2 linked regions of the Homo sapiens genome follow. The protein of the gene in region 1 purifies or fractionates together with the protein of each later gene. This does not show direct contact. Each region holds a gene or a part of one and is shown in the gene's direction. Other genes may lie near its edges.

Evidence for each region. Proteins that work in one complex are often made in the same cells at the same time.
Region 2: the proteins of MPZL1 (region 1) and ALDH1A2 purify together in Homo sapiens (affinity purification with mass spectrometry; one large-scale study listed by BioGRID and IntAct). This does not show direct contact.

The regions. Positions count from the first base shown.
Region 1 is NC_000001.11:167,769,404-167,774,825, forward strand, and holds part of MPZL1 (myelin protein zero-like protein 1 isoform a precursor), read left to right. Parts: intron 1-2,871; coding exon 2,872-3,085; intron 3,086-3,832; coding exon 3,833-3,965; intron 3,966-5,422. UniProt on the Homo sapiens protein: Cell surface receptor, which is involved in signal transduction processes. Recruits PTPN11/SHP-2 to the cell membrane and is a putative substrate of PTPN11/SHP-2.
Region 2 is NC_000015.10:57,960,107-57,965,528, reverse strand, and holds part of ALDH1A2 (retinal dehydrogenase 2), read left to right. Parts: intron 1-1,459; coding exon 1,460-1,644; intron 1,645-3,352; coding exon 3,353-3,517; intron 3,518-4,234; coding exon 4,235-4,392; intron 4,393-4,684; coding exon 4,685-4,759; intron 4,760-5,422. UniProt on the Homo sapiens protein: Catalyzes the NAD-dependent oxidation of aldehyde substrates, such as all-trans-retinal and all-trans-13,14-dihydroretinal, to their corresponding carboxylic acids, all-trans-retinoate and all-trans-13,14-dihydroretinoate, respectively.

The DNA.
Region 1 (5,422 bases):
GAGAATAGTGTTCCCTGAGCTTGGGGTTCCTCGGCTGTGATGCAACGCCTCTGCCTGCACAACATCCATGTGAGCCCCTCCATGTCATGGCTATGGGACTTGCGGGGCAAGAGAAACAAACACATGCTTTCTGCTCATAAGGTTCTTTGTTTCTGAGTCTTCTTCATGGGAGTGAAGATTTCACAGGAGTCCGTGTCTTCTGTCAGCACCTATGAACCTGTGGCCAACTAACTTTGTTAGCTTGTAAGTAGGGTAAAATCTCAGACCCTTCACGGTTCTTAACAAGCATTTAGGTCATATGAAATGCAGGGTAAATATTTGATAAATGTTATAATAATAACCATTATTCTTTATCAGTGATCATTTAGGCATTGTGGAAGATGATGAGTTAGACATACCAGTTAAGAGGCCATAGTCCAAGATGATGAAAACATAAAAACAGATATTGTCAGTGGGAACCGAATAGAGAGAAGAGAGAACTGAGAGAAACTAATGAGACATTGACAATATTGGGGGATTAACTGGATAGGAAGAAAGAGAATCAAGGATGACTTCAAGATTTATGGTTTTGGAAAGAAACAGTAGCCATCAGTGAAGACACGATACATGAAGAGGGGAAGATGAAGTTTGTAAGAGAGGGTGACAAGCTTGGGGGAGAGGGGCAGCCAGGTGGTAAAGTGAGTAGGCAAGGAGTCTAGAGCTTAGGGGACGCTATTGATGGAGAGAGAGGTTTGGGAGTTAAGAAAATCTAGATGATCATTAAATCATAGGAATGGATGAGTCTGCACTGGGGTTTTCACCGTGCTCAAAGGGTTCTGAAAATGTTCTGTTTGAATTGCTAATAGAGCTGGTTTCTATCCCCAGCTCCACCATCACCCCGTCCATTAACCAGAACAAAGACATCAGGCCTCCAGCATAGCTGCTTGGATTAGAGCCAAGTGTGAGGATAGATCCCCTCCCACTGGGCCTTAACCCTGCTTCCAGGTGCTGAGTTTGACAAGGTTTACTTTGAGAAGACAGTTCCTTTGCTGAAAGCAGGACTGAGGAGAGACTGAGGAGTGGAAAGAGAAAGGGGCTAAAGGCTGAACTTTCAAAAGCCGGCAAGAGTATCTTGTGTTATCTGGGCTTTGTTCCTTTCACACACCCATGACTTTTCCATAGGAAACCAGAAGGAAGAGGGCGAAACTCAGATTAGCTGATCTGAGATATTTAGGATTCTTCTCCTTTGTGCTTCTGTGTATCTTAGTGGTAAGCTAACTCAACACTAAGCTTTCTGAAGCCTTGGGAATCACTGGGCTCAATCATGGTGTTACTGGAAGAACATTGGCTTTGAAGACTCAGATGGGCCTAAATTTTACTCTGGGTCCCCAATTTACTATCATTGGTACCTTGGGAAAATGGCTTCTCTTAAGTCTCCATTTTGTCTTTTATAAAATTATGGGTGGTAATAATTATATCAATGAAATATTGAGAGGATTAGAGGTGATATATGAGTCTGATTCTTCCATTGAAACCTGGCAGGGTTGAGTGCCGTGATCTCTAAACTTCTGTCTGGCTTAGATTCCATAACTTGTGATTTGTAATATGATGTTGCATTTCTTTTTTTTTTTTTTTTTAATTGATCATTCTTGGGTGTTTCTCGGAGAGGGGGATGTGGCAGGGTCATAGGATAATAGTGGAGAGAAGGTCAACACGTGAACAAAGGTCTCTGGTTTTCCTAGGCAGAGGTCCCTGCGGCCTTCCGCAGTGTTTGTGTCCCTGGGTACTTGAGATTAGGGAGTGGTGATGACTCTTAACGAGTATGCTGCCTTCAAGCATCTGTTTAACAAAGCACATCTTGCACCGCCCTTAATCCATTTCACCCTGAGTTGACACAGCACATGTTTCAGAGAGCATGGGGTTGGGGGTAAGGTTTATAGATTAACAGCATCCCAAGGCAGAAGAATTTTTCTTAGTACAGAACAAAATGGAGTCTCCTATGTCTACTTCTTTCTACACAGACACAGTAACAATCTGATCTCTCTTTCTTTTCCCCACATTTCCCCCTTTTCTTTTTGACAAAACCGCCATCGTCATCATGGCCCGTTCTCAATGGTCGCTGTCTCTTCGGAGCTGTTGGGTACACGTGCAGAAAGGCTGTCACTTCACACTTGGAAGATTGCACAGCGGCCAGGCAGAGGCGCTCCTCACTTCCCAGACGGGGTGGTGGCCGGGCAGAGGCGCTCCTCACTTCCCAGACAGGGTGGCCGGGCAGAGGGGCTCCTCACATCCCAGAGGATGGGCGGCCAGGCAGAGACGCTCCTCACTTCCTAGATGGGGTGGCAGCTGGGCAGAGGCTGTAATCTTAGTACTTTGGGAGACCAAGGCAGGTGGCTGGGAGGTGGAGGTTGCAGCGAGCCGAGATCACACCACTGCACTCCAGCCTGGGCAGCATTGAGCATTGAGTGAGCAAGACTCCATCTGCAAACCCAGCACCTTGGGAGGCTGAGGCAGGCAGAACACTCCAGGTCAGGAGCTGGAGGCCAGCCCGGTCAACACGGCAAAACCCCTCTCCACCAAAAATACAAAAACCAGTCAGGCGTGGCCGCACGTGCCTGCAATCCCAGGCAGTCGGCAGCCCGAGGCAGGAGAATCACAGGAGCCCGAGGCAGGGAGGTTGCAGCGAGCCAAGATCACGGCAGTACAGTCCAGCCTCAGCAACAGAGGGAGACCGAAAAAAGGAGGAGAGAGAGGGGGAGAGGGAGAGGGAGAGAGATGTTGCATTTCTTTCCGTATGAAGTCTTTAAAAGAACCTTTCATAGCATGCACATTACAGAGTTTAGGAATTCTGCCTTTGAGAATAGTTCATGTGTTCCTTTTTTCTAATTGCAGTTTTTCCACTACTCCCAAGGGCAAGTGTACCTTGGGAATTATCCACCATTTAAAGACAGAATCAGCTGGGCTGGAGACCTTGACAAGAAAGATGCATCAATCAACATAGAAAATATGCAGTTTATACACAATGGCACCTATATCTGTGATGTCAAAAACCCTCCTGACATCGTTGTCCAGCCTGGACACATTAGGCTCTATGTCGTAGAAAAAGGTACTTCCTTGAGTATTTTGGCAGTAATAATGCAGTCTCCTTTATCTCATGTTTGGTTGGAAAACATGAGTTGCATTTCATGGTGGGTTTGGAGGGAGGATTTTTGCCATACAGTTGTGCTCCCTGTTGCCACGAACCTGTGGCTCTACCAAACACACTTGGAGCTGGGAAACTTGTTGCTCATTCTGACCCAGAGTGGCTGATTTCTCCATTTTTATTCCTACCGTCTGGTGCCTATTGGTCTAATTTCAGGAGTATGAATTTTTCAGTGTTAATTAGAAGAAAGACCAAATTCATTATGTTTGGATGTGATGGGCAGTGGGAAAGAAGGAGATTCATACTGTTTTATATTCTCCAGGAGAAAGCTTTCAACAACAGCACAGTTATTTCTTCCTTTTGATTTTGAGAACAAACAGGAAATGCAGGTTCTGGTGTCTCATTTTTGAGACAAAGTCTGTTTTGTTGGAGAGTAGATCCAGGTAAATTCACACCTCCGGTTTTTCTTTAGAGCACTGAGAGGGATTGTAGGTGTAGAAATGCTTAGTTCCATAGTTCATTCTTTCTCATCTAATATTCACATGTCATGAATTACATAGTAATAGGATAGATAGTAGGATCTCATAGTTTGGATAATAAAAGAGGGTACGGTAACTGCTAAATGAAGATACTTGCTCGTTAATTTAATAAAATTCCATGTTTTCTCTCTGTAGCAATGTACCTTAAAACTATTTTGTTCTTTCTCTCTAGAGAATTTGCCTGTGTTTCCAGTTTGGGTAGTGGTGGGCATAGTTACTGCTGTGGTCCTAGGTCTCACTCTGCTCATCAGCATGATTCTGGCTGTCCTCTATAGAAGGAAAAACTCTAAACGGGATTACACTGGGTAAGAAACACTGTTTTTTTAGGGCAGGGGTGGAGGGAGGGAATCAGGGTTTATAGAAACTTCTGTATTTAATGAAAAAAGGATTTTAAAGAATTAACTACTATTTTCTTTCATGTCAGAATCAGGCAGTCTCCTTAGGAGGTGTTCTAACATGGGCAAGTGGAAATCAGTGGGCCTGCTATTAAATGTGGAATATGATTCTAATCTCTGTTCCAGTTTCCTTCTTAGGTTTGGTGAGATGAGCTGCTCAGCAGTCTGTGCTCTGTGTTTCAATACCATCCACTATGCAATTAGTATTCTTAAGACATCACTTACCCAATTTAAGAGTTTAATTTCAATTTCTTGCTAATAAACTCACAAGGTGGTTCTTTCCAGTTAGGAAATATAAAACCCTAATTAAGAAGTTGTGAGCTGGAATTAGTGGCATGTGCCTGTAAGTCCCAGCTACTTAGGCTGTGGCAGGAGGATTGCTTGAGCCGAGGCGTTTGAATCTAGCCTAGGCAACATAGCAAGATCCTGTCTCTTTAAAAAAAAAAAAAAAGAAAGAAAGAAAGAAGAAGAAAAAGCAGTGGTTTTAATAAACTACCTCCCCCAGCCCAGTGTGATGATGGTGCAGGGCTTTTCCTTTTTGTAGTTCCCCTACCCCACTCCAAGCTTAAGTAGCTTTATTGCTTTGATCATTCTTAGCTAGATTCACCCAAAATGGGATAATAAGAATTGATGACAAAATATATCAGCAATAAAGAAAAATAGACTTTCTTTTTGTTTATGGCTTCTCAGATGGAACACGTTTAAGCATAGGGTGTGTATCTAATTAAAGGACCTTCTCTTTTCCCCACTCCAGCTGGAAAGCTAACCCATATAAGCTATGTAGAACTCATGTGGTAAGACTGGGAGCAGAGGCTGGATTCAAGTTGATATAGCATGAGCAGTGTTGCAGATGCACAGATCTAACTTTAGCCATCCTGAAGGGACTCTGATGTGAAAGGATTGCATGTCCTGAACTCTCTTGCTGGTGGATGGTGGGAACCTCTATCTATGGGCTCTGCTGATCTAGAGTTTTTAGGAGTGCTGTGTTTTAACAAGTTTGAGTGTTCAAATTCAGATATTACTTGCTTGGAATGCTTCTATTCTGCTGACTGTATCTGCCCCCCTTGCATGGTGAGTGTTTTATGATTAAATATAGTTGGACTATTGGTTTCAACATGAGACTAATCCAGGGTGGTGACATGCCGGTCTTTGTAGTTCTTGCTTCGGGGTTAATGAGGGGCAGGAAAGAGTTCCTTAGACTCCTGCATGGCATCATGAATGCTGCTGTTCTTCTTACCTTGGTTTTTTTCCTCCTCCTCTACCTTTTCTACCTTGGTGTGCTGGGATCAGATCCTGCTTATCTTCCACTTCTTAAGAAAAGCTGACATAGAAGACACATTGGGACTATAACAGGGCTGGGTCTCCTC
Region 2 (5,422 bases), on another chromosome or scaffold:
GACACTAATGAGCCATTTTGAATCTGTGATGTTGTAGAATAGGGGGATGAGATGAAGGCTTGGTCAGTGGCATATGGTTCAACAGCAGTGGTCTCAGCTGCTGAGCACCTGAAGGATAGTCTCTCTGCCTAGATTCAATAAATCTGTAACTTTTCAACTGTGCCTGGTGGCTGGTAGACCATTTTAAATAAATCCGACTTGACCAGCCCTGCCAGCATTTTCCAAACCCACAGCCCCTTCTCTGTTTAGTCAATTCCAGCCCCTTTCTGTTGCTCGCATGACTTTCAGTTAGGATGACAGCACACGTGGGTCAGTTCGGTATGAGTAGTCCTAAAGCTGGGATGATTCCACTTGCCAGTAGGACCTTACAGAGGCTTAGAGAAGTAACTGAGAAACCCCATGTCTCTAGGAAGGATGCCACCTAGGCCATTCTGCACAGGTGTGACGTTTCTGTTTGAAAAGCTCTCCAGGTAAGGAAATCCCACCATCTCATTCAGTGATTCTTTTTTTTTTTTCCCTCCACTTGTTGCCAGGCAGAGCTGCTTTCCCAGTCTCACCACCAGAGAGATCAGAAAACCAAAAGCAGATTGCTTGAATTTCAGCACCAGCTTGGAATTTGCAGAGTTCAGCTTTAGCTTTATATTAGTTGTCAAGAAAATCAGAATCCTTATGCCTGTTCCTCTTGAGGAGTAGGAACTTCATCTCCCTAACATTGACTGATTCATTTATTCAGTCAGTCGGTCATTTAGCAACTAATGCACGTCAGATTAAGCTGTTTTGAAGTGTAAGATATAAGGGATGAATATGGAAGAGTTATCATAGGATTTTACACAAGTCCATGTCAATCTAGAGGAAATTTAGTGTCTTCAAAGAAGACCCATTGGTGTTACGGTTTAATCCCCCAAGTACCAAACATACAGCCCCAAGGCCCTGTAGATTTAGGAGTTGTAAATTGGCCAAATACAAAATATAGACATGTTTACCTGTCTAAACATTACACTATGTTCAAAACAAGAACTGCACATTAAAATATTGATTTCTGTGAAAATTGAGAGGATCTGGCAACCTGGGGCTCATATTTATGCATGGCAATGATTAAATGTAGTGGCTTTCCTTCTTAGCCCCTCCATTACATTGCTTTACCACCTGGCAGACTCATACCTGTACCTTATCTCCCAAGCCCTGTGGTATATAGGGGTTTGAGACTCCTGTTATACACGAGGTTCAGTACCTCTGTTTGCAGAATAAGAAAGAGACCCAAAGAAGTGAAGTTGTTCAAGTTCACATAGCATGTCAGGGTGTAGTTAGAACTAGTTGCATTCCCAATCCAGGGCTATTCATGGTTATGTCATGCAGTGAGCACACTATACCTAGGGCTTTGGAGAGGGGAGGGAGGCGGCTTCATAGACAGGCCCCTCCCCAGGCAAAGCGGTGAGAACATGGCTGTTTCCTCTTGTAGTGGACTATGCTGTGGAGCAGGCCCACCAGGGTGTGTTCTTCAATCAAGGTCAGTGCTGCACTGCAGGCTCTCGCATCTTCGTGGAGGAGTCCATCTATGAGGAGTTTGTGAGAAGAAGCGTGGAGCGGGCCAAGAGGCGCGTAGTGGGGAGTCCCTTTGACCCCACCACTGAGCAGGGTCCCCAGGTAGAAAAATCATAACCATTCCCTTTGTTTACTTAATCCTTGACTGGCACAGAACTGTGTACACTGTAGTAGGTCCCAGCAAAGCGACATCTTCCTTTTCGGCTGACTCCTTTATTCTCCACCATGTCTTCGTGGCTGGAAATGGAGCCAGAGAGGGATTGCTTATTTCTTATGCTTCTCTGTCCCTTTCTAAGTTTTATCTCTGAAAAACTATGGGATTACCATTACTTTAAGAATATTCTGGCCGGGCGCAGTGGCTCACGCCTGTAATCTCAGCTTTTAGGGAGGCCGAGGCGGGCGGATCATGAGGTCAGGAGATCGAGACCATCCTGGCTAATATGGTGAAACCCTGTCTCTACTAAAAATACAAAAAAAAAATTAGCCGGGCGAGGTGGCGGGTACCTGTAATCCCAGCTACTCGGGAGGCTGAGGTAGGAGAATGGCGTGAACCCGGGAGATGGAGCTTACAGACTGTGCCACTGCACTCCACCAGCCTGGGCGAAAGAGCAAGACTCCGTCTCAAAAAAAAAAAAAAAAGAATATTCTGACCTTTGGGACTAAGCTGGAGTCTCTCAGTTCTAAAGAAAGCCATGAGTATGACAAGATGGGTCTGGACACTAGAACCCAGTCCCAGTCCTTCCAATCACTGAACTTTAGGACATCCCTACAGATGCCACAGTCAAGGAGGGTAGATATCTTTCTTTCCTAGAGCCATCTATCCTTTTACGAGCTGCCAAGGAGTCTCTCCAGCAGCCTGAACCAGTCTGGACAGATCCCTTGTAGCTTGTGAAAGTGTAGGAAGTGAAGGGCTGGCTCACTTCCCTTTTGCTGTATGGTTATTTCTTAATCTGAAGGCCTCGTGTACTTTAGTGGGGTGGGGAGGGCCACAAAGTCTCTCCTGAACAGCCTCCTCTGCAGGTTCACCGTAATCATCGAGGCATATTTCTAAAGGGAATTCTGGTTTTAATCTGTAGACAGGTTCTGAGAATTTTCAGAAGGAACCTGGACCAGCTCTTATATGGGTCACTAAAGCATGGGTTTAGGGATTATTCAAGAGAAGATTGATGTTCTGGCTGAGCCATTCAAACTTGGGTAAATGTAGGTTTTTGTGTTATTTACCATAATAAGCAAATGATAACTCCGTCAGTTTTTTGGGGGAAGACTGACCTTGTTTTTTTTTGGACTAGGAAGCTCATCCTTCACTCTTTACTGTTAATATTTTCCTCTAAAGTTCCTCTAAAAGTGTAATAGGAATTCCTTTAAAAACAAACCACAATAAGATTGGGTATGTAGCACTATCTAAAAAGGCTGTGTGCTAATTTTTGCCTCTTTTTACTATCAATACAACTTGCTAAGTTACTCATTTAATTATAAAAGTCAATTTTCCCTCATATGAACATTGAATAGTAAATTAGCCAGTGTCTCCATCATTTTGAAACATTTTTCTAAATGTTCAGCTGGTACTTCTGATTAGGCAATATCATCAGAGCAGTACATTTATTGGAATCGTCGATATATTAGGATTAACCATACAAAATTGCCAGTTTTTTGTAGGTCAAAAATTGGTAAGTAACAGCAGTTTTATATGATCTGACTGGGTGTAGTTAAACTTTGAAAAAAACCCTAAAATGAAAGATTCTCAAGAACATACTTATTTCCATTTTCATAGAAGGTTATATTTGGAGTCATTAAGTCTTGTCTCCCACAGATTGATAAGAAACAGTACAACAAGATCTTGGAACTCATCCAGAGTGGTGTGGCTGAGGGCGCCAAGCTGGAATGTGGAGGCAAAGGACTGGGCCGAAAGGGGTTTTTCATTGAGCCCACAGTGTTTTCCAACGTCACTGATGATATGCGGATTGCCAAGGAGGAGGTATCAAATATGCTGTTCTTACAAAAGCCACATCTTTCTTGGGATCATTTCTAGAGCATTTCTAGTGGATGATATTAGAGTTTTAGCTCTTTATATTTTACATATATTCATTTTGCAACAGTAATGAACATGGCTATGAAAATTCCAGTTTCAAGAAGAAAAATAAACCAAAAGACAAGCAAGCTAGGTGGAGGCCAGGTGACATGCTATGTGCTTATGATTATTATTAGCCAACAGAACAATCAGAATAGCCTGCCATTGGCCTCAACAATACACTGGCAATAGTTCGGCTCTCCTAAATGTGGGTCACTGGGATGTTAACCAGGAGAGAGAATCCACTGAAGCATCTTTACATCTGTGCAAGAGAGGGACAAGGAGCAAATCAGCCCACAGTCCAGAGCATTCCGTTCTGGAGCAGTGTTTGCAGGATCACGGAGGATGCCACTTGCTCTTCTGTACCTAAAGAAGACACCCCTAGTATACACAGTGGAATCAAGTGATGCTGGAGAGGTTGGGGAAGTTGGGGAGGTTAAACACTAATGTCAGACTCTTCTTGCATAATCTTATCCTAGGAAAGGTTGGGAGATTTTACAGTTTTGTACTGCTAAACTTAAAGGTCATTTAAGTAATCAAGGCAGAGTAAACTTGCATTGAAATGTGGAAAGCAGGTAAAGGAATGACAGAGCAACCATGTTGAGTCATATTATCTTTTTGCAGATCTTTGGCCCTGTTCAGGAAATTTTGAGATTTAAGACGATGGATGAAGTTATCGAAAGAGCCAATAACTCAGACTTTGGACTCGTAGCAGCTGTCTTTACTAATGACATCAACAAGGCCCTCACAGTGTCTTCTGCAATGCAAGCTGGGACTGTTTGGTAAGATCAGAGTCAGTCTTGTAACAAATTCCACTGGTGGTATAGGGACCAGGGTGAAATAAACAAGTATCTCCTTGGAAGGATGGGGAATACCAAAAGCAACCAAAGTTCACCAGAAAAGGGGTACACTCCTTACTGCTTAGATCCAGAAATCAAAGTAGATTTTAAATTACAATTTTTTCCTCTGGAGGAAAGGAATTTAAAAATAAAACTTCTAAAAGAAATACCATGCCAGTCAGATTATGTGCTCAGACTTCACACGAACTCACAGTGCTATGTTTTCTTCTTTCAGGATCAATTGTTACAATGCCTTAAATGCCCAGAGCCCCTTTGGGGGATTCAAGATGTCTGGAAATGGGAGAGAAATGTAAGTCTTAAAGTTGCTGATGCCTGCAGAGAAATAGATTGCAAATATCAGCACAGAGCAGTACTTAAAAAATAGTTTAATTATCTTACACTCATCCATACATTCAACAAACATTTCGTGGAGCACATGCTACTATAAGCTAAGTTCTATTACATGTTATAGAGATGAATAAAACACAATTCCATTTCCCAAAGTGAGAATGGAAAAAATTAATGTACCATTAATTCCCTGTAGTAAAGGCTATGATTAGAAGTATGTTAAACATTTTGTCAGTACAGAGAAAAATCAATTAATTTTGACTGCTCGGGTCCTAGAAGACTTCACAAAGGAAGTAACCGTTTTTCCTGGAAGTAACATCCAGGAAAAGAACCCACTTTCCCTCCTTTTGAAAGAAACTGATCTGTATTTGCCAAATGCTGTGACTCACAGAGGAAACATGTTTCATGCCCGTTCCCTCAGCCATTACTGAATGCCTATTTTTTTGAGCAAATGCCTAGTTCACAATCTAACAAATATTGAGCATAAATATGTACAAAGCACTGTGCTTGGTCTATGGAGGAAGATGCAGGTCCTTAAGGCATTTAATATGTTTTGGGGTAAATAAAACTAATAACATTGAAAGAATCAGAGGAATCGCAGAAAAGACTGTAAACCAATGGAGGA